5 separate regions of the Homo sapiens genome follow, and regions 1, 2, 3 and 5 are each linked to region 4. The links come from fine-mapping of genetic effects on gene expression. A gene starts in region 4. Each other region holds a variant in brackets. All regions are shown on one strand. Distances are from middle to middle. Region 1 overlaps LOC105375463 (a long non-coding RNA gene). Region 2 overlaps TES (testin LIM domain protein). Region 3 overlaps LOC105375463 (a long non-coding RNA gene). Region 4 holds the start of TES (testin LIM domain protein). Region 5 holds the start of LOC124901730 (a long non-coding RNA gene).

The links.
Region 1: its variant is fine-mapped to the expression of TES in whole blood (TOPMed, PIP 0.95).
Region 2: its variant is fine-mapped to the expression of TES in whole blood (TOPMed, PIP above 0.99).
Region 3: its variant is fine-mapped to the expression of TES in whole blood (TOPMed, PIP above 0.99).
Region 5: its variant is fine-mapped to the expression of TES in whole blood (TOPMed, PIP above 0.99).

What each region holds. Positions count from the first base shown.
Region 1 is chr7:116,286,706-116,292,897 of GRCh38, forward strand. It overlaps LOC105375463 (a long non-coding RNA gene), which reads left to right. Exons shown (of 7, transcript XR_001745336.2): 2 at 1,342-1,409; 3 at 3,147-3,345. LOC102724434 (a long non-coding RNA gene) reads right to left here and starts at 22. Exons shown (of 4, transcript NR_130922.1): 1 at 1-22. The variant G/A (reference allele first, on the strand shown) is at 3,641.
Region 2 is chr7:116,242,753-116,248,944 of GRCh38, forward strand. All of the region lies in intron 2 of TES (testin LIM domain protein), which reads left to right. LOC124901730 (a long non-coding RNA gene) reads right to left here. Exons shown (of 4, transcript XR_007060485.1): 2 at 1,090-1,184. Among named protein-coding and RNA genes, the nearest start is that of TES, 35 kb to the left of the region's middle. The variant C/T (reference allele first, on the strand shown) is at 2,814.
Region 3 is chr7:116,324,822-116,331,013 of GRCh38, forward strand. The region is part of intron 6 of LOC105375463 (a long non-coding RNA gene); the gene reads left to right. Among named protein-coding and RNA genes, the nearest start is that of TES, 120 kb to the left of the region's middle. RefSeq lists an enhancer at 3,034-3,328. The variant T/C (reference allele first, on the strand shown) is at 2,732.
Region 4 is chr7:116,207,139-116,213,330 of GRCh38, forward strand. It overlaps TES (testin LIM domain protein), which reads left to right and starts at 3,401. Exons shown (of 7, transcript NM_015641.4): 1 at 3,401-3,596. The coding sequence starts at 3,570. RefSeq lists silencers at 3,120-3,249, 3,283-3,545, 3,300-3,499, 3,640-3,729 and an enhancer at 4,090-4,329.
Region 5 is chr7:116,255,778-116,261,969 of GRCh38, forward strand. It overlaps TES (testin LIM domain protein), which reads left to right. Exons shown (of 7, transcript NM_015641.4): 7 at 1,517-3,006. The coding sequence ends at 1,705. It overlaps LOC124901730 (a long non-coding RNA gene), which reads right to left and starts at 1,527. Exons shown (of 4, transcript XR_007060485.1): 1 at 1-1,527. The variant CAAAAT/C (reference allele first, on the strand shown) is at 2,982.

The DNA of each region.
Region 1 (6,192 bases), 80 kb after region 4:
CCTGTCTCCCCATGGAAGATGCGAGTGAGAATGCCATGACTCTGTGACCTCACAATACTAAAAGAATTTTGCTTCTGCAGGATGGGACCACAGCCAGAACTCTATGCCACACCAGAATTTACTTATTCAACACATATTTCTGAGTGTCAACTCTGTGCCAAGTATCATTTTAGTTTTACAGCAGTGAACAAAATACACAATGTGCCTGAACTATGAATATTACTATTGTTGACGTGACAACAATGAATGAATAACAAAACAGATTTATATAAGCCAGGTTGTATAAGTGTTATAGACAAAAATGAAATAAGTGTTTAGCCAGGGTTCTCTAGAGGGACAGAACTAATAGGATAGATGTATATATGAGGGGGAGTTTATTAAAGATTATTGACTCACACAATCACAAGGCCCCACAATAGGCCGTCTGCAGGCTGAGGAACAAGGAAGCCAGTCCGAGTCCCAAAACCTCAAAAGTAAGGAAGTGGACAGTTCAGCCTTCAGTCTGTGGCTGAAGGCCCGAGAGACTGTGGCAAACCACTGGTGTCGGTTCAAGAGGCCAAGAGCTGGAAAACTTGGAGTCTGATGTTTGAGGGCAGGAAGCATCCAGCACAGGAGGAGGATGAAGGCTAGAAGACTCAGCAAGTCTGCTCCTTCCAAGTTCTTCTGCCTGCTTTATTCTAACCATGCTGGCAGCTGATTAGATGGTGCCCACTCAGATTAAAGGTGGGTCTGCCTCTCCCAATCCACTGACTCAAATGTTAGTCTCTGGTAACACCCTCACAGACACACCCAGGAACAATACTTTGCTTCCTTCAGTCTAATTAAGCTGACACTCAATATTAACCATCACAGTAAGCATATCAGAGACTATAGGGTCTGCTGTTTGGGACAGGGTGTTCTGAAAGGACCTCTGGTAAGGTGACTTTTGAGCATAGACCTGAAGAAAATGGAGGAATGAGCCCTGTACATTGTCAGGGAAGAACTGCTCTGGCAGAGGAAATACAGATGGAAAGGGCCTGCACTGGAAAAGTGATCGGCATGTTAGAGGCACAGTGAGGAGGCCAACACAACCGGTGAGGAGTGAATCAGGAGAATAATAGGGGATGAAGTCACAGTATTGGGACCCAGGTCATAGAGAGCCCTGGAAGGCATTTTAAGGACTTGGACTTTGAGGAAAATGAGAAACCATTGGCCAGTTTGGGGTACATGGATGATATTTAACCAGAAGATTCTTTTTCCTCTCTATCAAGTCATCACTTTCCACATTTTATGGAAAGAAGTTTTATCTTTTCTTGTTAAGCTATTGGTGAATTTTTAACTTTGGGGTTTTGTTTCGGATAGGTATTGGGAGAAGGAGAGGCTGTCAACCCATGCCACTATGCTATCTCTAATTCTGCCATCCAGACCGAGTAAGTTTTATTTCCACTGTATTCTGCCGTCCATGGCTTGCAGGAAGGGGTTCACCCCTACTCACCCTACAGGCCACTTCCATGAAGAGCTGTGCCCAGAGGCTCCCTGGGCCCAGCACAACAAGCACATTCACGTATCCCCAGCCTCAAATGAGCCTCATTTACAGTCCAGCAGTGTGTGCCTGCACGGTAGTTCTTTATGTTTCCTTTTCAATAAATATATGACTCATACCAGTATTGTCCTTTGTTTAGCTTTCATCTTTCTCAGAGTTTGAAGTGTTTGTAAGAAATAGTTGTAGATTTATTTTTAAAGCCTTGCTACCTTAAATCAAGAATTTTTTTTTTTTTTTTTTTTTGAGACGGAGTCTTGCTCTGTCGCCCAGGCTGGAGGGCAGTGGTGCCATCTCGGCTCACTGCAAGCACCGCCTCCTGGGTTCATGCCATTCTCCTGCCTCAGCCTCTGAGGTAGCTGGGACCACAGGTGCCTGCCACCACGCCCAGCTAATTTTTTTTTTTTTTATATTTTTAGTAGAGACGGGGTTTCACCATGTTAGCCAGGCTGGTCTCAATCTGCTGACCTTGTGATCCACCCACCTCAGCCTCCCAAAGGGCTGGGATTACAGGCGTGAGCCACCGCGCCTGGCCAAATCAGGAAATTTTAAAAGCATAACATGCCACTGTATTTCTTTTTCTTATGAAAAGCAATAATGCTAAATTTACAGGCATAATGTTGTATTGGCATTAAAGATGGCTATCAATCCATTAAAATAATCAATATGTTATTTCTTGACCTCCTGGCCTCATGATCCACCTGCCTCGGCCTCCCAAAGTGCTGGGATTACAGGCGTGAGCCACCGTGCCCAGCCAAAATAATCAATATGTTATTTCTGATGCTGAATGTATACACAAAAGTTTTCAACTATCTGAAAAAGAGGATCTTCTGATAAATATTCATCATATCCTAATTTTTAAAATTAGAGTACTTCAAATTTAGATGTTATGTTAAAAAAAAAAAACTCCAAATTCTCACACGTGAAACCTGATCTTGGTTCTGATGTTTACTTTTTTTGAAGTAAGTAGAAATAATTGAGTACAGAAGAAACAATTAGCTAGATTTGTTAAAATCTGGTTAAATATTGTTTTAATTATCACAGAAGATGTAAAGAACATGTAATTTTATGGATTATTTATAGAATAGTGGGCAAAACCAATTAGGTATTAAGAAGTGAACCTTGAATTTATGCATTTTTGTAACAGAACTTCTAGCTGTACTAAATACAAACTGAATTTTTGGAGTTAAAAAACTCTTTCATTACGCTTAAGATATATTATTTATCATATTAATAAGCTTCTCACATCATACATTGTGTATTGTTATTGTGGTTATTTTTGTCAACAATTTTTATCAAATGAGTTCTAATTTTTGGTGGAGAAATTTTGGCAACTACACAAAGAATGTACCAAATATCACTTCTGCAAACTACACATATGAACTTTTCAAAATCCATAAATTACTCTTCTCTGGTTTGGCTGAAGTTAGAGAAGCATTGTTAAATAATATTTACTGAACACTTTTTCTAAAAAAAATTGTGTGTTTTCATAATGTGTTTTGATTTAAAAGAAAGTTGTTATTATTAGTGAAAACATTTTTTGTAATGAGCCAATAAAGTCCTCAAAATTAAAATGAATCATACTATGGAAGACCTACATTTGATACACTTTTTTTTCTCTGAGCAGGCAAACGTACTTAAGACCTTTGTGTAAGATCAGAAAATCATAAGACAGCATTAAAAAGTACTATACAGGAGGAGATGGAACAAGATGGCCAAATAGAAGCCTCCAGCAATCATCTCCCCGAAAGGAATTGAACAACTATCAAAACAAAATTGAACAACTATCTAAACAAAAAAGTACCTTCATAAAAAACAAAAATCAGGTGAGTGATCACAGTACCTGCTTTTAACATCATTTTTTAAAATACTTTAAGTTCTAGGGTACATGTGCACAACGTGCAGGTTTGTTACTTATGCATACATGTGCCATGTTGGTGTGCTGCACCCATTAACTCGACTTTTACATTAGGTATATCTCCTAATGCTATTCCCTCCCCCCTCCCCCCACCCCACAACAGGCCCTGGTGTGTGATGTTCCCCACCCTGCATCCAAGTGTTCTCATTATTCAATTCCCACCTATGAGTGAGAACATGCGGTGTTTGGTTTTTTGTCCTTGC[G/A]ATAGTTTGCTGAGAATGATGGTTTCCAGCTTCATCCATGTCCCTACAAAGGACATGAAATCATCCTTTTTTATGGCTGCATAGTATTCCATGGCATATATGTGCCACATTTTCTTAATCCAGTCTATCATTGTTGGACATTTGGGTTGGTTCCAAGTCTTTGCTATTGTGAATAGTGCCGCAATAAACATACGTGTGCATGTGTCTTCATAGTAGCATGATTTATAATCCTTTGGGTATATACCCAGTAATGGGACGGCTGGGTCAAATGGTATTTCTAGTTCTAGATCCTTGAGGAATAGCCACACTGTCTTCCCACAATGGTTGAACTAGTTTACAGTCCCACCAACAGTGTAAAAGTGTTCCTATTTCTCCACATCATATTAAGGAAAGAGGCACTGAAGAGGATAGGAAAGGCAGACTTGAATTGCCTACACCACTCTTCCCCCATCCCCAGACAGCAGCCCCTCATGATGCAGAGAGAGAATCTGTATGCTTGAGGGTGGGACAGTGCAGTGACTGTGGAATTTTGCATTGGAATTCAGTGCTGCTCTGTCACAGCAGAAAGCAACAAAGGCCAGAACTCAGCCAGTACCCATAGAGGGAGCATTTCAACCAACCCTAGCTAGAGGGAAATAGCCCATCCCAGTGACAGAACTTGAGTTTTGGCAAGTCTTGCCAACACAGGCTAAAGTGCTCTGGGGTTCTAAATAAACTTGAAATGAATGGCAGTCCAGGCCACAAGGACTGCAATTTCTGGGCAACTCCTGGTGCTGTGCTGGGCTTGAAACCAATGGGCTTGGGGTGCACACAACTTAGTGAGACATCAGCTGGGGTGGCCTAAGGAGTTCTTGTGTCACCCTTCCCAAACTCTAGGCAGTGAAGCTTGCAACTTCAGGAGAGAACCATTCCTTCCACTTGAGAGGAGAAGGGAGAGTAAAGAGTACTTTGTCTTACAACTTGGATACCACCTTAGCCACAGCAGGATAGAGCACAGAGCAGAGTCCCAGGCTCCCATTCCAGGCTCTAGCTCCCAGATGACATTTCTATACATACCCTGGGTCAGAGGAGAACCCATCACCTTGAAGGGAAGGACCTAGTTCTGGCAAGATTTATCACCTGCTGACTAAGGAACCCTTGGTCCCTGAACAATCAGCAGTGGTAGCCAGGCAGTACTTACCATGGGTTTGGGGTGAGATTCAGAGCCACGACCCAGTACATTCCCAGCTTTTGTGACTATGAGGAGAAACTCTTCTACTTGAAGAAAAGAGAGGGCAGAATAAACAAGACTTTGTCTTGTAGTTTGGGCACCAGCTCAGCCACAGTGGCGTAGAGCAGCAAGCATATCCTTGTGGTCCCTGATTCCAGGCCTTGGCTCTTAGGTGACATATCTGAACCTGCCATTGGCCAGAGGGGAGCTGACTGCCCTGAAGCAAGAGTCCCAGGCCTGGCAGCATTTACCATAACTGACTGAAGAGTGCTTGGATCTTGAGTGAACATGAGCAGTAGCAAGGCAGTTCTCACTGTGGACCTAGGGCAGTGGTAGCCATGAGGAGAGACTCCTCTGCTTGTGGAAAGAGAAGAGAAGAGTGGGAAGAATTTTGTCTTGTGGCTTGGGTGCCAGCTCAGCCACAGTAGAATAGAGCACCAGGTATATTTCTAAGGTTTCCAACTCCAGGCCCTGGCTGCTAGACAGAATCTCTGGACTTGCACAGGGCCAGGGGGAACTCACCACCCTGAGAAGGACACAGTCTGTCTGGCTTTGCCACTTACTGATTTTAGAGCCCTAGAGCCTTGAGCAAACATAGGTGGTAGCCAGGCAGTTTCACAGCTGACTCTGAGTGAAACCCAATGCTGTGCCGGCTTCAGGTCTGAAGCACTGTCCTAGTGGTGGTGGGTACAGGGTTGTTTGTGTCACCCCTCCTCTAGTTCCAAGAAACTCAGCACACACAGAGAGAGAGAGAGAGGGAGAGAGAGAGAGAGGGAGAGAGAGAGACTCCATTTGTTTGGGAGAAAGTAAGGGAGGAGAACAAGAGTCTCTGTCAGGTAATCCAGAGAATTATTTTGGATTTTATTCTAGACTATCAAGGCAATACCTCTATGAGTCTGCAAGAGCCACAGCATTACTGGGCTTGGGGTGGCTCCTAATGCAGATATGGCTACAGTAACCAAAAACTTAGATTACAACACTGAAGTTTCTTCAAATGCCTGAAAAGCCTTTCCAAGAAGGACAGGTACAAACAAGCCAAGACTGCAAAAACTGCAATAAATACCTTATCCTAACTCTTCAATGCCCAGACACTGACAAACTTCAAGGAAAATGACCTCACCAAATGAACTAAATAAGGCACAGGGGTCAATCCTGGGGACACAGAGATACGTGACCTTTCAGACAGAGAATTCAAAATAGCTGTTTTGAAGAAATGCAACAAAATTCAAGTTAAAACAGAGAAAGAATTCAGAATCCTATCAGATAAATCTAATAAACAGATTGAAATAATTTAAAAGAATCAAGCAGAAGTTCTGGAGTTGAAAAATACAAGTGACATACT
Region 2 (6,192 bases), 36 kb after region 4:
AATTCTTCTTAATGCTAATTAATACATTGCATTTCTCTGTGGTCATAGCATCTGTGAATAGCAACAGTTTAGTTTTTTTCTTTCTGATGAATTCTTGTAACTTTTCACACTGCTCTGATTAGTACCTTCAGAACCATATGATTAGAATTGGTGATAGCAAGGTTGCTTTCTTGCTTCACATCTTAAAACTAATGCAGTAAGTATGATCTATGCTGAGTGTCTGGGTTTGTTCCCCCCATGCCTCATCCTCTAGGAACTCTTTCTAGAATAGTTTCTATTTCCTTTTACTAGTTTCTGCTATTCTCTTTATTTTCCTTCCTTTTACTTCAGGCTTATTATGCCTTTTTCCTAACTTCCTGAGTTGAACACTTAGTACTTTATTTTTTCCTTTTTTCTAATTTGAGTGTTTTAAACTATAAATTATTTAGTTATCTAGTTACTTCAACATGCATTCTTAGCCTAATTGTATCTAATGTTAATCCATGTTTATATAGACTGAACAATGTAAGTATCTTTAGAATGTGTTTTACAACACTCAGATCGCCACTCTTATTGTTATGTTGTCGTTGCCATGTATATTGCTTCCAGCTTAAATTTTTAACACCACTCCCTACTCCTCTGTTTTTCTCTGTCACCTTTTCCAGCTTCTTTTCCTCTACTAGACTCTTTCTTGAGTCCTTACTTTTTCCCTCTACATTTTTGCCAACAGGCACAGATGATCTCTTTAACTCATATTCATTATATATTGTTCCCTGACCACCAAATTTATATTTCCTACCAGGCTACAGTTTTTAACATGAGAGTTATAGATCCTACACTCTGTGATATCTTTACCTTGTCTCACAGGCATATCAAATTTATCAGTGGTTTCATTTTGGAGACTTCCATCAACCTTCCCCACTCCATACTGCAAAACTGTTCATCTTTTGAATATACTATCTTAATAAATTATATTCATTCTACTAATTTACTCATCCCAGAAACTTGGTTTTATTTTTCAAGAGACTGAGTGTATTAGTCTGCTCTCAGTTAGTCAAGACATACCCAAGACTGGGTAATTTATAAAGGAAAGAGCTTTAATTGACTCACAGTTCAGCATGGCTGGGAAGTCCTCAGGAAACTTACAATTGTGGCAAAAGAGGAAGCAAACACATCCTTCTTCACATGGTGGCAGCAAGAAGTGCCTAGCAAAAGGGAGAAAAGCCCCTTATAAAACCATTAGCTCTCATGAGAACTCACTCACCATCACGAGAACAGCATGAGGGTAACAGGCCCCATGATTCAGTTACCTCCCACCATGTCCCTCCCACAACACGTGGGGATTATGGGAAATACAATTCAAGATGAGATTTGGGTGGGGACACAGCCAAACCATATCATTCTGCCCCAGCCCCTCCCAAATCTCATGTCCTCACATTTCAAAACACAATTATGCCCTTCCAACAGTCCCCCAAAGTCTTAACTCACTCCAGCATTAACTCAAAAGTCCAAGTCCAAAGTCTCATCTGAGACCAGGCAAGTCCCTTCTGCCTGTGAGCCAGTAAAATTAAAAGCAAGTTAGTTACTTCCTAGATACAATGAGGGTACAGGCATTGGGTAAATACAGCCATTCCAAATGGGAGAAATTGGCCAAAAGAAAGGGGCTACAGGCCCTATGGGAGATCAAAATCCAATAGGGCAGTCATTAAACGTTAAAATTCCAAAATGTCCTTTGACTTCATGTCTCACATCCAGGGTGTGCTAATGCAAAAAAGGTGGGTTCCCATGGCCTTGGGCAACTCCGCCCCTGTGGCTTTGCAAGGTACAGTCCCACTCCCAGCTGCTTTCATTGGCTGGCATTGAGTGCCTGCAGCTGTCCTTGGATCTCCCATTCTGGGGTCTGGAGGATGGTGGCCCTCTTCTCACAGCTCCACTAGGCAGTGCCCTTGTGGGGACTCTGTGTGGGGGCTCCAACCCCACATTTCCCTTCCACACTACCCTAGCAGTGGTTCTCCATGAGGGCTCTGCCCCTGCAATAAACTTCTGCTTGGACATTCAGGCATTTTCATACATCCTCTGAAATCTAGGCAGAGGTTCCCAAACATCAGTTGTTGTCTTCTGCATACCTGCAGGACCAACACCGTATGGAAGCTGCCAAGGCTTGGGGCTTGCACCCTCTGAAGCAATGGGCCAAGCTATACCTTGGCCCCTTTTAGCCACCACTGGAGCTGAAGAAGCTGGGATGCAGGGCAGCATGTCCCAAGGCTGCACAGAGCAAGGGATCCCTGGGCGTGGTCCACGACAGCATTTTTCCCTCCTAGGCCTCCAGGCCTGTGATGGGAGGGGCTGCTGTGAAGCTCTCTGACATGCCCTGGAGACATTTTCTCCATTGTCTTGGTGATTAACATCCGGGCACCTTGTTACTTATGCAAATTTCTGCAGCGGGCTTGAATCCCTCCCCAGAAAATAACTTTTTCTTTTGTATCGCATTGTCAGGCTGCAAATTTTTCAAACTTTTATCCTCCGTCACCTCTTGAATGCTTTGCTGCTTAAAAATTTCTTCCACCAGACAACCTAAATCATCTCTCTCAAGTTCAAAGTTTTGCCCCTGCCTACAGATTCTAGGGCAGGGGCAAAATGCCACCAGTCTCTTTGAATAGCCAGAGTGGCCTTTACATCAGCTCCCAACAAGTTCCTCATCTCTATCTGAGACCACCTCAGCCTGGACTTCATTGTCCATATCACTATCAGCATTTTGGTAAAACTCATTCAACAAGTCTCTAGGAAGTTCGAAACTTTCCCACATCTTCCTGTCTTCTGAGCCCTCCAAGTCT[C/T]TAGGAATTTCCAAACTTTCTCACATCAACCTGTCTTCTTAGCCCTCCAGACTGTTCTAACCTCTAGCTATTACCCAGTTCCAAAATCACTTCCACATTTTCAGGTATCCTTATGGCAGCACCACACCCTTTAAAGTACCAGTTTACTGTATTTATTAGTCTATTCTCATGGTGCTAATAAAGACATACCTGAGACTGAGTAATTTATTTATAAAGGAAAGAGATTTAATTGACTTACAGTTCAGCATGGCTGAGGAGGCCTCAGGAAACTTACAAACATGGTGGAACGCAAAGCAAACATGTTCTTTACATTGTGGCAGCAAGGAGAAGTGCCGAGCAAAAGGGGAAAAAGTCCCTTATAAAACCATCAGCTCTCAAGAGAACTCAATCACTATCATGAGAATAGCATGAGGGTAACAGCCCTCATGATTCAATTACCTCCTACCACATCTCTCCCACAACACATGGGGATTATGGGAACTACGATTCAAGATGAAATTTGGGTGGGGTCACAGCCAAACCATATCACTGAGCCTTCCCTTTGCCATCACTATGTCCAAATAAACCACTAAGTTTAGTCAGTTTTTTGTTCAAGGAGACCTCAAATTTCTTCCTTTCTTTTCATCTCCACTGTTGAATACTCTAATCCAAGCCATAGCATATTTTACCTGGACCACAACAATAACCCTCCAAGATGTAAATTCCATTTGTGAAGTAGTGGCAGCATCCTGTTATTTAGAACCATGCCATTGCAAACTGGATGCATAATTAACATGTTAGCTTGTCTCCCTATTGCCAGTTATGTTTCACCCCTAATCCATTTACCACATGGCAGATATTGTGATATTTAAAATTACAGATCTGATCATTTTATTCCATTACCAAAAAGCCTTTGCTGCTTCCTGATTGCTCTTATGATGAAGCCCAAATTCCTTAATGTGTTCTATGAGCCCCTGCATGACTTCATGCCTACCTCTCCAGTCTTATCACCCTCCTATTGACTCATCTTCCTACAGTCATACCAACCTCCCCTGGTTATGACACCTAAGGGGACAATTTCTTTCCTAATTCAGGACCACTGAAGGTATTCCTCTTTATACCCAATACTAGAGACTTTTCTTTCCTTTTCTCCTCCCCAGATACACACCCACATACACAGTTTACACCTATGTTTCATACATCGTCCAGATCTCAACCTAAATATCATCTTCTTATGGGGTCCCTTCTTCACGAGTTTGAAGTCCAAATTACACCCTCTCAAGGGACCCTATACTTTCTTTCCTATCACAAATGAAATTTTCTCTGTGTATGTGTGTGTGTGTGATTATTTAATGTCTATCTCCCACCAGAGAGTAAGTTCTAGAAATCAGAGACTAGGCCCCTTTTTTTTTTTTTTTTTTTTAAGCACTATGTCCTAGTGTCAAGTACATTGCTTGGCACATGGGCACTCGTGTATGTTGCATGAATGAATGAATGTCTGTGTGCCAGACCAGAGTGAAGAAGAGAACATTGTCCTTGAACTATAAGAAACACCATGATGGCAGAGAGCACATGGTAGGTGGCAATAAGTGTTTGAAGAAATAAAATAAGGGAAGGAAAGAGAAAGGAAAAACAAAGGGAAGGAAATGGAGGGCAAAAGAAATTGAGAAAAAAATGAGAAAGGCTGTAAACCTAAATCTAGGATTATAATCTTTGATGGGAAAAGTTTCCCTGTCTCTCACTAAAAAAACAAACAAACAAGAAACCTTGGATAATAGCTATAAAATGTTAACATGCAATAAAGTACAAAGCCTCTTGCTTAAATAAGGAAACATATAATTTTTGTGGTTTTATTTAATTCATTTCTTTTTATTATTTATTTTATTCACTATTGGGTGACAGCATAAGGAATATCAGATGGGGTTACACTCAGACATGTCCCTTTAAGTGTGCACTTTTTAATCAGTCTTTTTTTTTAATGGTACAATTGAAGATGTCTATTATTGGGGCCATCACCACTTCTTTCAGTGAATTCATTGAAAAAATCTTGGTTGGTTTTGATAAAAATCAAATGAATAATTGCTTCTCGTTATCATATCAGAAATGCAGATGCACGTTTGGTTGACAAAACACACTGAATTTGTTAAAATACTTACTTAGAAAATTCAGTTGAAACGTTATGGTACCATCTAAATCACAAAACTTAATTCAGTAATTTCCAAAAATACATTATTAGTGACTGATAATTCTGCTGCTTTCCTCTTTTTTTCACCTTCCATTTTAGGTTCAGAATGTACCTGTGCAGTGCAGGTGTTTTACATGGGTAAATTGCATGTTACTGAGGCTTGGGTTATAAATGATCCCATCACCCAGGTAGTGACCATAGTACCTGAGAGTTAGCTTTTCAAACGTTTCTCCCTCTCACCCTCCCCACTCTAATATTCCCTAGTGTCTGTTAGTTCCATCTTTGTGTCCATGTGTACTCAATATTTAGCTCCCACTTATAAGTGAGAATATGTGGTATTTGGTTTTCCTTTCCTGTATTAATTCACTTAAGATAATGACTTCCAGCTGCATTCATTTTGCTTCAAAGGACATGATTTCATTCTTTTTTTATGGCTGCATAGTATTCTATGGTGAATATGTTCCACATTTTCTTTATCCAGTCTACCATTGATGGGCGTCTAGGTTGATTCCACCATGTCTTTTCTATTGTGAATACTACTGTGATAAACATACGGGTGCATTGTCCTTTTGGTGGAACAATGCATTTTCCTTTGGGATTGCTGGGTTGAATGATAGTTCTAAGTTCTTTGAGAAATCTCCAAACTGCTTTCCACAGTGGCTGAACTAATTTACATTCTCACCAACAGTGTATAAGCATTCCCTTTTCTCCGCAACATCTGTTATTTTTTGACTTTTTAGTAATAGCTATTCCGACTGATGGAAGATGGCATCTCATCATCGTTTTGATTTGCATTCCTTAATGATTAGTGATATTGAGCATGTTTTCATATATTTTTTGGCCATATGTATATCTTCTTTTGAGAAATATCTGTTCATGTCCTTTGCCCATTTTTTAATGGGGTTGTCTTTTGCTTGTTGAATTGTTCCTTATAGATTCTGAATATTAGACCTTTGTCAGTTGCAGGATTTGCAAATATTTTCTTCCATTCTATAGGTTGTCTGTTTGTCCTGTTGCCAGTTTCTTTTGCTTTGTAGAAGCTCTTCAGTTTAATTGGGTCCCTCTTTCAATTTTTACAACCTAGCTTTTAAAAGCCTTATCAAGCAAAGTCGTGTTTTGTTTCCTTCTTGCTTAAATATATGGATACTTATTCTCCCTCCTAAAAAAGGACTTGCCTTTGCATACCATGATATAGAATAGGCCTAAAAGTATTTT
Region 3 (6,192 bases), 120 kb after region 4:
TAAAGGGGAAGTGCCACACACTTTTAAACAACCAGATCTTTTGAGAACACACTCACTATTACAAGAACAGCAAGGGGGAAATCGGCCCCCATGATTCAATCACTTCCCACCAGGCCATTCCCCAGACACATGCGGATTACAATTAGAGATGAGATTTGGGTGGGGACACAGAGCCAAACCATGTCATGCTCATTGACAATGCACCTGGCCACCCAAGAGCTCTGATAGAGATGTACAAGGAGATGAATGTTGTTTTCATGCCTGCTAACACAACACAATATCCATCCTGTAGCCCATAAATCAAGGAGTAATTTCTATTTTCAAGTTGCCTAATATAACAAATGCATTTTGTAAGGCTACAGTTGTCATACACAGTGATTCCTCCGATAGATCTGGATAAAGAAAACAGAAAATCTTCTGGAAAGGATTAATCATTCTAGATGCCACTAGGAACATTTGTGATTCATGGGAAGAGGTAAAAATATTAACATGAATGGGAGTTTAGACGAAGTTGATTCGAATCCCCACGGAAAACTAACTTAGAAGGGTTCAAGACTTCAGAGGAGGGAGTAACTGCAGCTGTGGTAGAAACAGCAAGAAACTACAATTAAAAGTGAAGCCTGAACATGTGACTGAATTGCTGCAATCTCATGATAAAACTTGAATAGATTGGGAATCTCTTCTTACGGACGAGCAAAGTGTTTTCTTGAGATCAAATCTATTCCTGGTGAAGATGCTATGAACAGTGTTGAAATGACAACAAAAGATTTAGACCATTGCATAAACTTAGTTGTTAAAGTAGCAGCAGGATTTCAGACAATTTCCTCCCATTTTGAAAGAAGTTCTACTGTGAGTATAATGCCATCAAACGGCATCACGTGCTACAGAGAAATTCTTTGTGAAAGGAAGATTCAATTGATACAGTAAACTTCAGTGCTGTCTTACTTTAAGTAATTGTCACAGCCACCCAACCTTCAGCAGCCCCCACCCTGGTTAGCTGCCATCAACACTGAGGCAAGTCCCTCTACCAGCAAAAAGAATATGACTCACTGAAGATTCAGATGATCACGAGCATTTTTCAGTAATAAACAATTTTTACACTAAGATATGTCCATGTTTTTTAAGACATAATGCTATTTTACACTGAACAGACTACAGTATAAACATATAACTTTTATACGCACTGGGAAATCAAAAACGTGTGTGGCTCACTTTATTGTGGTAGTCTGGAACAGAACTCACAACATCTCCAAGGTATGCCTGTATTTCATTTAGGTGAAGATATGAAAGCGGCAGTTGAATATACAAATCTGTAATTCATGGGACTGCTCAGTGTTGGAGATCTAATTTGGGTTCATCCATCTATAGGTATATTTAAAAAGCTGAGGCCTGAATAAAGATACCTAGGGAACACAGGTAGAGAGAGCACACAAAGCCTGACCTGCAGCATTCCAGTGTTTAGAGGTCAAGAAATAAGATAGAGTAGTGGACTAGTGGCCAAGTAATAAACTGGGTCAAAGATGAAGAATGAAGAATGCCAGTGGATTTTGCCATGTGGGGGTTTTAAGGGACCTCGATAAGAGAGCTTTTAGTACAGTTGTTAGGACAAGACAGGCCTAGAGTTTAGTCTTAAAAGGGAACAGAGAAATGACGTGGTTGTTGGAGGAGACCATAGAGACAAAGAAGGTTCATTTATTCATTTTTATGTTTAAGACAGGAGATAACTGTCCTATGTTGTATGATGATGGAAATGGCCCAGTAGAGACAGAAACATTGATGGTTTCTATTTTTTCCATCTTGTTTGGTTTGGTCTTTCAGAATTTAATACCTAATGAATGACTTTTTTTAACTTTTATTTTAGTTTCAGGGATACATGTGCAGGTTGGTTCTATAGATAAATTGCATGTTGCGGGGGTTTGGTGTACATATTATTTTGTCACCCAGGTAAAAGCATAGTACCCGATATGCAGTTTTTCAATCTTCACCCTTCACCCACCCTCCACGCTCAAGCAGGCCCCAGTGTCTATTGTTCTCTTCTTTGTATCCATGTGTACTCAATCTTTAGCTCCCAATTATAAGTAAGAACATGCAGTGTTTGGTTTTCTGTTTCTGCATTAATTCATTTATGATAATGGCCTCCAGCTCCATCCATGTTGCTGCAAAGGACATGTTCTCATTATTTTTTTATGACTGCGTAGTATTTCATGGTGTATATGTACCACATTTTCTTTATCCAGTCTACTGTTGATGGGCATTTAGGTTGATTTCATGTCTTTGCTATTGTGAATAGTGCTGCAACGAACATACGTGTGCATGTCACTTTATGATAGAATGATTTATATTCCTTTGGGTGTATACGCAGTAATGAGACTGCTGGGTCAAGTGGTAATTCTTCTTTGAGTTCTTTAAGAAATCTCCAGACTGCTTTCCACAATGGCTGAACTAACTTACATTCCAACCAGCAGTGTATAAGCGTCCCTTTCCTCCGCAGCCTCGCCAGCATCTGTTATTTTTTGACTTTTTAATAATGGCCTGAATGACACATTTGAATTAATTAGTTTGACAAGAGTTTTAAAATATCAAACACACTTTCCCACAGTGTTCATTTTGTTTATATTTGCTTATCTCAGTAAATTGTTAACATGTAGAAATGAAAGCTTAAATGTATAATGAGCCATATCTCTGCATTTATTCAAAGACTTTAGGGGTCAAATTTGCTTATTAAACTGTG[T/C]GACAACCAGTTCTGTTTTTGAAATGTTTAAAATTTATCTTAATGTCCACTTTAGGTTCTAAATAATTGAGATAGGCTATCTATAAACCCTGCATTCACCAGATAATGGCCTCAGTATATCCTGCACTTGGCCAGGAATTGACATTCAGTCTATAATTATTTACTTACGGAAGATTTATGTTTTATAAGTAAAAACAGAGAGTATTGGTTTTAGAAATATATGATGTAGTTAAGAAAATCCAAGAAAAGCATTAATTAATAATAGAAAAAATCACTCACAGTTATTGAAAGCATCCCGCATGATGGGCGCTGTGCTGCAATCTACGTTCATGCTCTCATTTACTCCCCTCAGCAATTCTCTCTGGTGGTGGCCACTATGATTCTATTTTACAGACCAGGAAGTTGAGTCATTACAGGGGGCAAGTGACTTGCTGAACGGTACACAGCTGGGAAGTGGTGTGGCTGGAATTTGAGGTCATGCTTTCCATAGTCATAGTACACGACCGCTCAAGCAGGCTAGCATATGGATGGAAGGAAGAGAATGCTTCCTTTTCATACCAATGTCTTTATGTATGAAAAGCAAAGTTATGTTGATCGTATTAGGAATCAGGGTGAGTAATTTCTATTTTACCATGGAAATGATGAATTAACAAATTATTTTAATGTAGCAAAATTCCTCTACTGAAAGAATTAGACAAAACTCCACCATATATTCACTGTGCATTTGGAAGGAGGAGGCCAGAAACTGAAAACTCCAAAAGCAATTTTATGAGGCAGACAGAATTCCTTTGGGACTTCATATTAAGCTATTTTCAGTAGGGAGTACAAATATTTTGTTGAAAATGCTAAGAAACGCCTTTAAAACATTTCCTAATAGGGTCATAGTGGCTTGTTGTAAAGAACAGAAACCAATTTGCCCCATGCCTGACATATTGTTCAGTATTTACTATTAATTTTGTTCTAACAAAAGCCTACCTCAGATCAATAAATATAAATGTTGTAAAAAATAAATTTGATAAAGATTACATTTTTTCATTTGATGTAAAAGTACTTTTCACACTTTTTGGTAATTCATTAGGATGGTGATTTCATTTTAAGATTAGCTTTCCCTTTCCTTTTGTGTTACCTGTATTGAAAACTGGCTATTACCATATGTACTTCTTTACATTTTCTGCAGCATGTAATTAAGAGCTAAACTTATATATTTGTTGCCCTTTTTCACCTAATGAAGATAATTCCAAGGTTTGTAGAGAGAAATAAGAAACCATTCAAACCACTTGTGTTATTTTGTTTGTTGCTTTGTTTTTGAGACGGAGTCTCACTCTGTCACCCAGGCTGGAGAATAGTGGCGCAACCTTGGCTCACTGCAACCACTGCCTCCCAGGTTCAAGCGATTCTCCTGCCTCAGCCTCCTAAGTAGCTGGGACTTCAGGAGCCCACTGTCACACCTAGCTAATTTTTGTATTTTTAGTAGAGACAGAGTTTCACCATGTTGGCCAGGCTGGTCTCGAACTCCCGACCTTAGGTGATCTGCCCGCCTCGGCCTCCCAAAGTGCTGGGATTACAGGCATGAGCCACCACACCCAGCCACATTCAAACCACTTCTGAGGACTCTCCTATACTCTGGGTACTTAACTATGAAGTCTAAAGTTGTGGGATGTATAAACCAGCTATAAAGCTAGACAGGCTGACTCTAAAGCAAAGGGTAACATTCTCCACCTTCTGTTTTCTCTGGCTGTCCTTCCCTCTGGAGTGTCCTCCTTATACCTATAGGGATGTCTAGTGTCTGCTATCACAATTTGCTAATTGAATAGGCTCGATATCAGTCATTTCCACCTTAGTGAAAATTAAAACTGCTGTGTATTCTCTCCCTCCCTAAAGTAATTTTATTTTAGGCCTTGTTTATAATGTGACATGGGAAGCATTTCCTCTCCCACCTCCTTTAAATATATTTTGAATATCAGGGATTAAGTAGAAAAGATATTAGTGAAGATAGACTAGCCTTGAGAAGCTTAGTTATGCACCTCAGATAACACAAATCCGTGCATAGCTAGTCCCAAAGTAAAGCACAATAAATTGCATGAAATAATCAATGAATCTGAGGTGCTTGAATAATAGAGTCTTAGAACTGGTTGGTACCTAAGGATTTGTTGTACTCTTCCCTCCCACCCAATGCAGTAATCTTCTCTGTAAGAGCAGTAACAGATGGTCAAGAACTTGTACCACTATTTTGGTTTTTCTTATTAAAATGGCTAGATTTCAGAACTTCTTGGCAAGCTGCTATTCAAATGCAGAAATGCATCTGCTTAGAAACTCAAAAATAAACATGTTTTCCAAAGGAATCAAGTATGTTCTATAAAATCCTGGCCTGTTCATAGGATGTGGTAAGCATGAATTTCATTACAAGTTAATTCTACCATGATGGTAGTGAGCTTCTTTGTTCCAAACTAAGAAGTGTTGAGTGTGATTGGTGATGGTTGGAACTAAGGGGAGGGAGCTGAGAACTGACAGATGTATGCTCAAATCCTGGATGTGTCCTGGCATCAAATTTCAGAAAGTTAAGAAATAATGTTTTGTAAGGCAGTTTCATCTCATAATTTTAAGTTACTGTATTCATTCTACATGAAATCCATCATTAAACTCAGATACCATATCCAGTAGAGTAAATCAGGACCAAATACAGCCTGTAATACGCAGAGCCAGTGAGGCTGGGCAGCTTCTGTCTGAGTTCCAGACTCACTGGCACTCAGCTAAGGATTCCAGACACTCAAACTTAGCAAGAAATAGGACAAGAAGCATGGAGCATGACTTAATATTAGTCTGTGTGCATTTCTATGTGGAGCAATACATTTGCAATGCTTCTTAAAATGTAATGATGCCACAGTTTTATTTTTACATACAGTTATTAACTTTCAAATATATTCAGCAGATGATATGACTGCACATATTGGGATTTGGTATATATAACCTTTCAGTCCTTTTGACAGAGAGTGATAACATTGATAATCTCCATATGGCTTAATGTTTCTTTGCTCTCCCTCCTTTCGGAAATTCTCTGTGCCTCGTTAAATGGAGAAGATTCCATTAATATTCAATGATACATGAACAAGCAATTAAAATAATTTCTATTCTAATCTGGAAATAGAAAGTATTTTCTATGTAGCATTATACAAATGCTATATTTATGAGCTATGTGGGTACTATAGGCAGAGATCAGTTTCAAAAATGAGCAATTACACTGTGCCACATTATAGACTGATTTGAACCACATAAATTTCATGTTTAAGACTCACTTTGATTATGTTGCGTATTTTACCATTTTAGAGAGGTTTCCTTGTGATCCTAATTCTAACTCAAAATAACCTGTTTTCACTTTTTGCCTATCCTTCCAACAATCTCTTCCCAACAAACCACCACCACCACCACCAAAAAAAAAAAAAAAAAAAAAAAAAAAAGCTTCA
Region 4 (6,192 bases):
GTGGCTTGGGCCATCCCTTTGGCAATAAATGAGCATTCTCTCTGAGTTCACAGGGGAGCTGGTCATTTAAAATTGTGTGGCACACCTCATCCTCCCCCACCAACACATTCTGTCTCTCTTGCTCCTGCTTTTACCATGTGAAGTGCTTTCTCCCACTTTGCCTTCTGCCATGATTGTAAGCTTCCTGAGGCCTCCCCAGAAGCCAATGCAGAAGGTATGCTTCCTGTACAGCCTGTAGAACTGTGAGCTAATTAAACCTCTTTTCTTTATAAATTACCCAGTCTCAGGTATTTCTTTATAGTAGTGCAAGAACGGCCTAATATAACTTGCAATCAAGAGTTTTAACTAAGACACTTATTCATCTTCCAAGACTAAGCCAAGGTTACTCTTTTCTAAAGATTTTACAAATCCCAATACCACCTTCTCCCTGACTCTCACGTGTGCTTCCCTCTACCTGTAACATTTCATTACTCTTACACACCTGCTACTCCCATACTAATCTGTAAACTGCTTAAGAACAAAGGGAATGTCTTATGTATTTTTACATCTCTCCAGTGATGAAGGGTACATAAAAGTTTAACACATTTCCCTCATCGGATATTGTAATTTGATAGCATAGAAACTGAATTTAACCTGAATAAATATTTTGTTTGGCCTATACAGAGAACTTCAGTCTCTCTCTCTCTCTCTCCTCTGTCTCTGTCTCTGTCTGTCTCTCTCTCTCTGTGTGTGCCTGCACACATGTGTAAAATCTAGTATTTTCATTTACTTCTCTAAAGATAAAGATCTTAAGACCATTCCTTAGTATTATCCAGTATAGTATATTGATTTCCTCTCTACTTGATTGAAACAGCAGAGTTGGGCATTTATTTGGCTGATGTGTCCATAAGTTTTGTGGAAAAGTCAAGTCCAACATTGACTAAAGCACTCTGGTAGAAACAAAGGGAGATAAAATTATAAAGTAATATCTTTCCCCACAACTGCACCAAAAATGCACTTTCCAAAGTCACCAATGATCTCCTTTTTGTTAAATCCGAAGGGCATTTGACCCTTTTCTACAATTTGACATTGTTAACTAATTTCTTCTTCAATTTCCTTTCTTGCTTTTAGGGATTTGACTCCTAATTTTTTTCTTACCCTTAATCTAGCCCTTATCTCTTTTATGTGTTTCTCTTGCTCAGCCTTGCTCACTTGGTGTCTTTGATATTCTTCTCTTTTATTTTACTGTCTCCGAGGCTCATCTCACTTCTTGGCCTTTAATTATTTATTTATGTAGGATGTGAACTCCTAAATCAGCATTCAAGATGTATATTTGGATACTCATTTCAATGTCTCAGTCTCAAACTCAATATATTAAAAGTTGTATCCTTTATGTCCACCACCAGCCCCAAAGAATGCACAACTGAACAAAACCCTGACCATCATCCTATATTTTCTCTCTTTCTGAGCTATCCATAGAGGTGATCAAGATAGAAATGTGTGCCATCTTCTATTCATTCCACTGTCATCAACTACATGTACTCATCAAACCATGCCAGTTCTACCTCCTTAATAACTGTAGCTTAACACCTGAATAACTGAACAAAAACTTACAATTTAACTCTCTTAACACTTATCTACCTCAATTTTATTTTTATAATTTATACATAATCTATAATTATTTTTATATAATTGGCACAGTGATAATTCCAGATAAAACTCACTGAATTTCTATTTCCATCCTTGCCAATGATACACACACACAATGTAATGCTGAGAGGGTTGGGAAGGAAGAATGGGAGAAAGGCAGAAGTTGACAGTTAAAAAAAAAAAGTTTCCAGATGGTTTTCTTAGTGTCATCTCTGCAACCTCATCAAATAAGGGTCCAAAATTTATGTTACAACATTTGTTTGATGCCTTATTTAAATTGCTTTACTGGACATTTTCCATCTGTTAAGCTCTCTGAAAGAAACAAAATTGCCTTGTCATAGCTAGACCTCATGATCCTATACACTTACAACGGGCAGACTTTGCAGGGGCCCACACCTTTCAAGGTGGTTTGGGAAAATGACACAGAAAAGTTTTACATCAGCTGAAAAGAAAAATGCATAACTCATTTTGGTAATTTCAGTTTTAATTCTTAATAGGATAAAGGAAACATGCACATTATAAATCAATGCTCTGTGTTAACAAATAATCAAGTAAGCAGAGTTGCAAGTATTGGCTAAAATGAATTTTGGATATTTTTAGCTACCAAATTTCTCGAGGCAAGGCAGACATACATCTGGACCTGAATATCTGCATTATTAGGGAATTTTTGTTTGTTTGTTTTATATTGTTTTGTTATTTTTAAAAGTAGGTGCCAAATTAGGTCACCTGCTGTCTGGGCAATGTTATTTTTTGCCATAACCACAAATTGAAGAAAATTGACTGCTCTTTTTCCTTAGTCAACATGCTGTGCTTCCAGCCCCAAACATCTTTGAGAAGTTGTTTAGATTCATGAGCAATGCCTCTGTCCCCAACAGGCTAAGACATTAGGCAGGTCCCTGCACCTCTGGAGTCCTCAGTTCCCTGCAAAGTGAGGAAGCTAGACTAAGTAATCGTTAGGCTCCCTTCCAGACCGACCAATCTGATGGTATTAGATGCAATTGCTCCTGAATTAGGGCATGAAATGAATTCAGCTTTGGTGCACCAATGTGATGACTCTGCTTCATCAAAGCCTGAGCACGCGATAGGCCTAGCACCATCTCACACAGAGACAAAGGGCAACCCTCTGCTTCCAAAGGAATGACACAACCTGTTTCTGAAGTGATTCACATCATCTTTACTTTTGAACAACCCAATGCTCAGAAAACAATCTAAGAATCTTCGCTGACTTTAGGGATGTAAGATACGGTTTCTTGACAGTATTTGGGATTGTGGAAAAAAGCAATTGAGGAAAGGGCATCTCCACAACGCAATATTGAATTTAGTGCCCAAGGTCCATCACAGGAATCCCTAACGATCCCTACAATCTCTCTCTCTCTCTTTTTTTTCTCTCTTTACCCTGAAAATAAACTGAGAAGTTAGTATTGGGATAACTATTCCCCTTGACCCAAATAAAAAGTCCTGGGCAAACACAGGTACAAATTGCCAAATGGAAAAAGTTCTTCTCCATCTTCAGCTAGAGGGAGGCTGGGGATCCCAGCTCTTTAGAAGCCGGCCCGTGGACGCCCAGAGAATCCCTTCGGAGACCAGGTCAGGGTCACTGAGCTTGCCCAGCAGGGCGCCGCCTCGGACGCCGCCCCGCCTCTCACCTTGCCAGCGCCGCGCTCGGGCCGCGAAGGTGCGTGCGGCGCTCGGTGATTGGCGGCGGCCCGGAGCTGCCCGGCTGCCATTGGCTGCCCGGCCCCCTTTGTTCCCGGGTCCGGGCCGCAGGCCCGCTGCGGCGGACTGGGCGGCGGAAGTTCGACGGCGCCGGGCGAGTGGCTGTTGAGCGGCGCCGCGGGAGTTCCGCAGGTTTCCCGTGTTCGCAGCGGAGCCGGAGGCCAGCTGAACCCGGCCGTGGGATCCCGGATAGGAGGAGGAGGGGACCCATAGGACGCGTTAACATGGACCTGGAAAACAAAGTGAAGAAGGTAGGGGGGCGCTCGTGGCGGGCGGCGGCTGCTTCACCTGCGCGGGTCGCGCGGCGCGCGGCGGCCGGAGGTGCCGAGGTGGGTGGGGCTCGCGGGCCCCCCGGTGTGAGCCCGGCTCTGGGTCTGCGGTGCCCCGGGCCCAGGGACCTGGCCCCCTGGGTAGAGGAGGTGCTCGGCGGCCCCGCCAGCTCCCCACACTCGGGAGCGACAGAATTGGAAGCGCGAGCGAGGGCGGGCGCGGGACTCTTCTCTCCAGTCTCACGGAATCCCAGTGGTTGTAGGTGTTGGAAACTTTACTTAAGATGTTTCAGCTCTGCCTGTGCCTCCTCAAAAGGAAAGGACGAGCTTAGGGCGAGTGCGGGCGAGACCGTGACACTTCCTGGCTCAGGAAGTTGAATTTCATTAAGCCTTTGTGGTTTGGGGCTCTGCTGTGCTTTGACAGCTCTGATCTCCTCCCTTCCGGCTGGGCTGTCTGGGGCGCTCTAAAATGAGTGTTGATTTAATGCACTGCCTTCGCACCCGTGCTGGTGATAACTTCTAATGTGATTTTTTTTTCGGTCATTCATTACTTGTCTACCGACCGAGGCAGTGCCTCCCTCTTAGGGAATTATCTGTCAAAGAGCGCATTCTCCTTGTTTGGCAGGTAGTCCCAAAGGGCGGTTGTCACCAGCGTCTCAGCGCAGGGAGACATTTTCAGCTTGGCTGCTGCCTCGCAGGCACTGGAACCGACGGCCCTACCTGAGCCACTCCCGGGTTATGCGGAGCCTGGTGTCGCCTGGGAGAAAAGGGTGGGGACCAGACTATGACTCAGAAGGAATGCTGATGTCACATTCGAGTGAATTGCCCTGTGCGAAAGTTCTCCTCGTTCCAGGGGATTTGCTCATGTTTTACTTTGTGGTAAATTTAAGCTAGCTGTCCCTTATCAAATAGAGAAGTTTTGCAGAGAGAGGAAGGGAAAAATACAGAAAACAGTTTTTGTTTTTCTCATACTCATGGTTCCTAATATTTTATCTTCTAAACACAAAGTTTTTGACTTGAGCATTAATTCTATTTTATGCCCAGAACTGGATTTTTGAAAATGGATACAAAATATTGTGTTAGGACTGCAGAGTTTTCGGTTAGGAAGCTATTGACCAATAAAAACTCGAAATGAGAAAACAGTTTTTTTCATTCCTTGCGACTAAAATTCTCAGGCACTCAAAAAGGTATCCAAGAACAGAAAAACATAAATTGTTAATGGTAGCGTGATTGCATTCTATTCTCTTCCCATTTGGTTTCTTTCTTTTTTTCTTTTAAATAACTGTAATATTTTTGGTTAATCTTGCTTGTCATGGGGGAAAAGCGGGGAAAGCATTTTGCCCGCTTAGCTTTCTGTTGATGAATACTACTCTCATTTAGTTTTCAAGTAGGTAAGAGCTACTTAATTTAGTACTTGTCTAAAACTTGGGGGGTCTTGTCCTTGCTTTTAAGTATTTATTTGAAGACAACTTTGCAAAAGTAAACATATTTTGGGCTGCCGAGGATGAACAGGTGAAGCACAGGATTTTTAGGGTAATGACACTATTCTGTATGATACTATAAAATGGCTGATACATGTAATTATACATTAATCAAAATCCATAGAATGTAGAACACCAAGAGTAAACCCTAATGTAAACTATGTATGTTGGGGATAATGATGTGTCAATGTGTTTCATCACTTGTAACAAATGTACTGCACTGATACGGGTTGTTGGTAGTCCGGGAGGCTGCTGGAGACAGGAAGGCATGGGGGAGGTACATGGGAACTTCGAATTTTCTGCTCAATTTTGCTGTGAAGCTAAAAAATGCTTTAAAAATAAAGTCTGTTTAATAGGGGGAGAAAAATCAAAGACATTTTTGAAACTTTTTGAGACAAGGAGTAATTCTGAGGGAAGAAGTTCAAACTTAAAAATTGTATATGCTTGCAAAGGAAAAATCCAGACGTTGTTTATAAACAATTTCCTTAGAGTTTGAAAATGTGGATTATGATAAATAATGCCCTTGACATATGGTGTAATTTTCCTCGTTTATCCCCCACTTTACTTTTAAAAGTTATATTTTCAACCAAGAATCTTAACTTTCTCTAATCCTCCTCTTCTCCGCCTCTACCACCCCAGAAAGAATTCCATAAATTAAAGGTTTTAGAGAGAATCCCATGATATAACAAATCCCTGTTTCACTACGTTGTCTTCACTGATGATTCTTAGAATCCTCAACTGGTAAATTGGAAGCTATTAAAAAACCGCAGAGATGTCCCGTATGACTCCAATTTGTGAGTCCCTTAATAGGCTTGATAGTCTAACAAAAAGTTTCCCAGTACAAAATTTGGAAATCTCAGGAATGTATTTCACAATCTTAGCCATACTCTCAAAAAGAAATTTATGTTCCTTTTAGCAATTGTTTTCTAACACGTCCAAAGAAGGAAATATTACAAGACTATCTGATTTACCAGCAGAGTCCTCACCCTATTTTGGTACCTAGTTTTCAAGTCTCCTTTCTTTTTGACTCAGTTATTCAAGAAAATTTATAGTTTGAATGTACCTTGAGAAAAGGAAGATTAAAAGTTGGAACAAAG
Region 5 (6,192 bases), 49 kb after region 4:
ATCATAAATGTTTAAGGAGAGGGATATCCTAATTACCCTGATTTGATCACTACACTATGTATACATGTATTGAAACATCACATAGTACACCCATAAATATGTACAATTATGTGTTGATCATAAATTTTAAAATGGAAAGATTAATATGAAATGCAGAAAATAAGACATTCTAAATGCATAATAAAGCTATAAAAATATATACAAAAAGCAGTTGCTTGCATGGTGCAGCTGCACATTAGAAATGTGCTTGTAATTGAAACGTTCATTTTTATAGTATTCAGGAATAGTGTGTTGATCAAAGAATTTTCATTGTATCTCAGGGAAGACTGGGTTGACCTAACTTATAGATTACAGAGCTATAATCTCTGTAATCAGAAGCAATGTAACAAAAATATGCAGGTCTGAAATGGACATATATAACCAGGCCTCACTTCACTGCCTAAACCAATTACCCAGTGAGTAGCAGCCACATTTTGAAGTCTTTTCAAGTAAGGAGGCTCAAGCTGAATGACCTCCACTCACCTGTTCCCACCCCTTATCCCTCAGTAATTCCTGACAATCACATTACGAGACCAAGGGTGCTTAAGATTAGTCACTGTGATACCAGACAGTCTTGCTGGCTTCTTCACTTGTTATGAAATATTTAAAACAAAAACTTTAAGACAGCCATATTCATTCAGAACATGTATAAACTATAAGGCATGGACTATCCAGTGTTTCAGAGGTCCGAACTGGTTTTCTGTTTTCTGCTATAACATAGGTTATTTATTCATTTTCCTCATGTGCATGTTTGAATAAGAAGAAAATTTTGTGGTGTAAATGTATGTATGTTTGTGTATGTATATACATGTTTGTATGTCATGTATATATACATAACACATACTGAATGGTACAGGGATTGTAAGTATTAATGTTCTACAATATTAGATTACACATAAATTATGACTGATCTTATGACAGAATAGAAGCCAATTAACTACAAGTTATATTTTTAGTGCAAATTCATTTTTCTCAAACACTGTCAGTATTTTTAATTGAGTCCTTAATTACTTTGAACATGATTTTAATTTACTACTGTCTAGAAATTAGTGGTGTTAATAATCTCATGTGTCATAGGTAAGACAGGTAAAATTACCACTTCAAAGCTTTAATGAACAAGGAAAAATCATAAACTTCTGTGTAATTACAAATGTGCAATCTAATAAAATACATCAGAACTAAGCACACTGCTTTGGAACTTCCCATCAAGACTTTCTGCCTTGAATGCCATGAAGTTATCTTACATGCATCAAATCACCTGTTTGGCCTTCACTCGTTATTTCTCAGGCTGCTCAGAATATTGACCTCCATTAACAGTTGGCCAAAAAGGTTAGCTAGAAGGCCACCCTCCATTGTGTATTTCTGAGGTTGTCATTATGAGTTTTAATTTATCATCTAAAGAAATATGTCCTAAGATGAAAATGTTACCATTACAGCTTGATCTCTCACCCTCTTCTCTTGTATTATTTCTTAATAGGTGTGTCAAGGATGCCACAATGCCATCGACCCAGAAGTGCAGCGGGTGACCTATAACAATTTCAGCTGGCATGCATCCACAGAGTGCTTTCTGTGCTCTTGCTGCAGCAAATGCCTCATTGGGCAGAAGTTCATGCCAGTAGAAGGGATGGTTTTCTGTTCAGTGGAATGTAAGAAGAGGATGTCTTAGGAGGAGGGCACCCAGAAGTATCGAGCCATAGCTATCCAAAGTGGTCTGCATTTCTACTGTAAAATGCAATTTGAAAAAAATAAAACGCAAAAAAAGAAACTGTAAAGGAAACCAAGAGATTTTGTTTAATTTTTTTGGCCATTTTTTCTTCATCAATTTTTTTTCGGTCTCAACTTTTAAACTTGGTTTAAGCATTTGATTTGTAAAACAGTAAATAATTGTATCTTTCCATAGCTTTTCAAATGTGAAATCATTTTTGGAAGCTTGGATCTCATTAAACTTCATGTCTCTATTCCATTTGTGCCACACACTTAAAAGTTAGTGTACTGAATGGAAAGATGAGCATTCCTAGTTCTACACTTCTTTTTTCCCCCTCATGTGTAAAATGAAAAGAAAACTAAATTTGCCCTAATACCAAGGCGCTACGTTTATTGCCTCGTCTTATTCACTGACCTTTGTAATGATACACAGTGAATTCTTTTTGACAAAGAGAAATGCAGTGTAGTATGCAGAGCTGCTGTTTTAATGCCTATGCATTTACTCTTTCCTGATTTAGGCAGAGGTGGCATTTTCTTTATTGCATTTCTCTATTTTTTTAATGTACCCTACCTTCAGTATTCTCTTTGTAAGTTGGTGACTTGCATCTGTGGCCTTGAATATTTTATTATCACATGTGGCATAACAGTATCCACACTTTTTAGTTCTTTATTTTTTTTTTTTTATTTTGAGCAATTCTCCTGCCTCAGCCTCCCAAATAGCTGGGATTACAGGTGCATGCCACCACACCCAGCTAATTTTTGTATTTTTAGTAGAGACAGGTTTTCACCATGTTAGCCAGGCTGGTCTCAAACTCCTGACCTCAGATGATCCGCCTGCCTTGGCCTCCCAAAGTGCTGGGATTACAGGTGTGGGAGCCACCATGCCTGACCCACACACTTTTTACTTGTATAGATGATTTTTGGCTTGGACATAAAAGCCAAGCCACCCATTTGCTTTTAATCCAAAGAACATGTATAGTTTTTGTACCCAGAGACTATGATTTATATTGATTGCACTTGCCTGCCATGATTTAGATAAGATTTTTTTTGCATGGTTTTTATTCTTTCCTAATGGATCCTGTTTTATAATACTTCCAAGCCTGTCCATGGATATATCAAATGTCTTCACTTGTATATTTTCATGGCTAGGTATTTCTAATGTTTATTCTTCCCTGTGTACTTCTACACATAGCTATGCACTATGAAAATTAAATGGAATGAATGATATGTATATTACT[CAAAAT/C]AAAGTTTCTTTCACTTTAATAATCATTGTATCTTTTTATTCATATCCTTTTTTGAGTGAAAAATGCTTCTGCAACTAAGCATGTGTTACAGCAGGGGGCGATGTCTCCAAGGATAAAAATTACCCAAACGAAAATAAAAGTCTGCCTCTGACAGGACAGCACAGAATCTAGATGTTTCATTATGGAGAAAAGATAAGGTTTATGAAACTTTCAAATCAGGACTTTTAAGTTTGGTCATGCAAGAGTTTTTTTCTTTTTCAAAGAAAGGGAAAGTAATTTTAATTAAAATTTGGGAGAGCTTATTTTCTATTCAGTTGGATCTAACAAGCCTTTTATACTTGGGTTTCAACTCTGGTTTCTTTATATGTAAAAAATATTAAAAGAAGAATTTTTTCATGGAAACTTATCGTGAGACAGAAAGCAAATGGGGAATAGTGGTAGACTCATGCTTCCTAATGTTAGCAGGCCATAATACTTTCTCCCTCAGTCTACAATTATTTCTGTCATAGTGGGAGTTGCAGTTTTCTCTGATACATACCCAGAATAACTTGACTTTTTTTTTTTTCCAGCTCCTGTTTGGCCAATAGTACTTCTCTTTACATTCCACCTCTCCACTCCCCACCACCACACACACATGCACATGTGCATACCAAGCATACAAATTTACTCCTTCTGCACTATGCCTTCAACCATGCAAAAGTAACTTTTGGAGCTTGGATACGTGTCACCTTATCTAAAGTAATCTAATTCTGCATATAATTTTAGAAGCTAATATCACAAGTATCATTACTGTCTATAAAGATCGCTTTATGGTTGCTCATATCTTTATCTTAAATGGCAACAAATATATTTTCCACAGCATATTGTCCACAAAGTTGTACAACTTAACTTTTCCCAGACATGGCTAAGTGAGAATAAACTGAAACAGAACCCATCTGCTACTAACACGGCCAATCCCTTAGGAAATCTGGATTGCTCTTGAGACATACTAGCCTTCATATTTGTTGCATGGTACCTACATATCTCCCTTTCCTCCTTCCTTTTTTTTTTTTTTTTTTTTTTTGAGGTGGGGGGGGCGGCAAATGAGTTAGGGATTATTCTTTCTTTTCATTGACTAGCTGAAACTTCTATTACTGAAGTCTTCAAGCATAGATTTCCAAATTTGACTTTGAAGTATTTCAGCCCAATTTCACCAAAGGCAAGGGATTCATCACTGATTCATTCTCAAGGAATTTCCAACACATAGCGTTTAAGCTTATACAACTTCACCGTAGTTACCAAAGAGACACCAACACCCAAGATCAGTATTCAGCCTTTGTCTTGAGATGCCTTGGCATATCTGAACTTGTCTTCTGGGTATTCACTTAATTCTTTGGAAAACTTGGGTTTCCGTCAATGTCTCTATAAAAAGGCACTTTGCCACAATTTCTCACTCATCTGCCCCTTCTTGACCTCTGCTGATTTAAATGCTTGCCGACAACTTTGATGACTGTAATGAATGCCCACATGTATGCAAAGGACCCACTGTGCTGGTTTATGTGTATGTGCTTTGACCACACAAAACACATTCTGGCTCGATTAATAGATTAATAGGATCTTTTTTCATATATTTAGTTGATGCTTAAATAGCTTTGGCTAATTATTTTGTTCTTTCACAGAGAACTTGTCATTGTAGCTTTTATTTGATCTGATAATACAACTTGAAGCACTCAAAATAAGATGCCATTAACTTTTTATACTTGTTTTGAATGGCATCTTATGATGACATTTACGAAGGCTGCTATCAATTTTTTTTCAGTGATACTCCTCACCAGGGTATCTTGCCCCTCAGCCAATAATAAAACCAACTTGTATCCTGTTATCTTTACGAGAGTCAGACATTAGTGAATACAGAGACTAATATTACAGTTGATTTCTCCATAAATATTGATGGACTGTGAAGACATCATGGTATATAGTTCCAGGGAGAGCTGGATTTAGGAATCTAGACAAGACACTTTTTGCCACATCCCATTGATTCTCCTCCTCTCCCATTACAGTAGGATGGAGGACAACATTGTTGGATTTGAAGAGTAAGAAATACCGGGCCCAAGTGTTGAATGGATATAATGTATTGAAGTCATCAAGAATAACCACAGGGAAAATGGTGGAGAGAAGAGTAAGCCAGAGCTAAAGTTATAAAAGTATGTGGAGAAGTATTGTGGCATCTGATAGAAGATGGAAACTCAGGGTGGAGATGGGTGGTAAAGTCTAAGGCCATGTGCTACACCTCAAAGAGCTGTGATTGTTAGGAAACAAACAGCCTTTAATGGGAAAAACAGTAGACGGTGAAGAAGACACCTACCCCACAGGGATTGTGCCAGACACTACTTGAAATACTACAGAAGAAATAGGCTTTGGGGATAACTAGGTGTCAGTTGGAGAAGATGATGAGGAGTTTGAGAGTACAAAGGAGTCTGCAGTTCACAGAAGTTGGATGTCAGTGGGTACAGAGATAAGAGTATAGGAGGAGATAGGGCCAGATTCGAAGTACAAAGCAGAATGGGTATCAGGTTTCCAGTAAGGCTGAAAAATCTAGAGGCCAGGGGTAATAAACAGGGTCGAGAGGCAGGCTAAGGTTAGTTCTGGTAGTTTCCTAGGGAAAAGTGGGTTATCAGGGATGCTTTTGGCTGTAAGTAACTAAAAAACTAAGAGTGGTTTTAAGACAAGATAGAGGCTAACCCAAATTTGGCTCAGAACAAGTTTATTTTTATCTCTCTATTCTTCCACCCTCTATATGTTGTTGCCTTCTATTCTCATTTGTCCCTTCATTCAAGCAACACTCCCTCATATGACATCATCCAAAATAATAAAGAAGAGAAATGGCAAAAGCGTATTTTACCTCTAGACAACGAAGAAGATCTTTCCCAGGGGCCCCCAGCTGATTCACCTGCCTTTCCACTTCATTGGCTACAAATATGTCACCTGCTCATCCTCATCAAAGGCAAAGGGAAACAGAGTTGCTATGGTTGACTTATCCAAGCACAATTCATACCATGAGGTCTGGGCACATGCTGCCCAGAACAAAATTATTTTGCTAATGTATGATTGTTTAGATTCAGCATTGTTTAGATAACTAAAAGGTATGTTTGTAAATAAGTATGAATCTAAAGTTTTGGGTTTCTGTTGACTTGTGAGATGAGTCAGGAACATCATTTGGGGAATA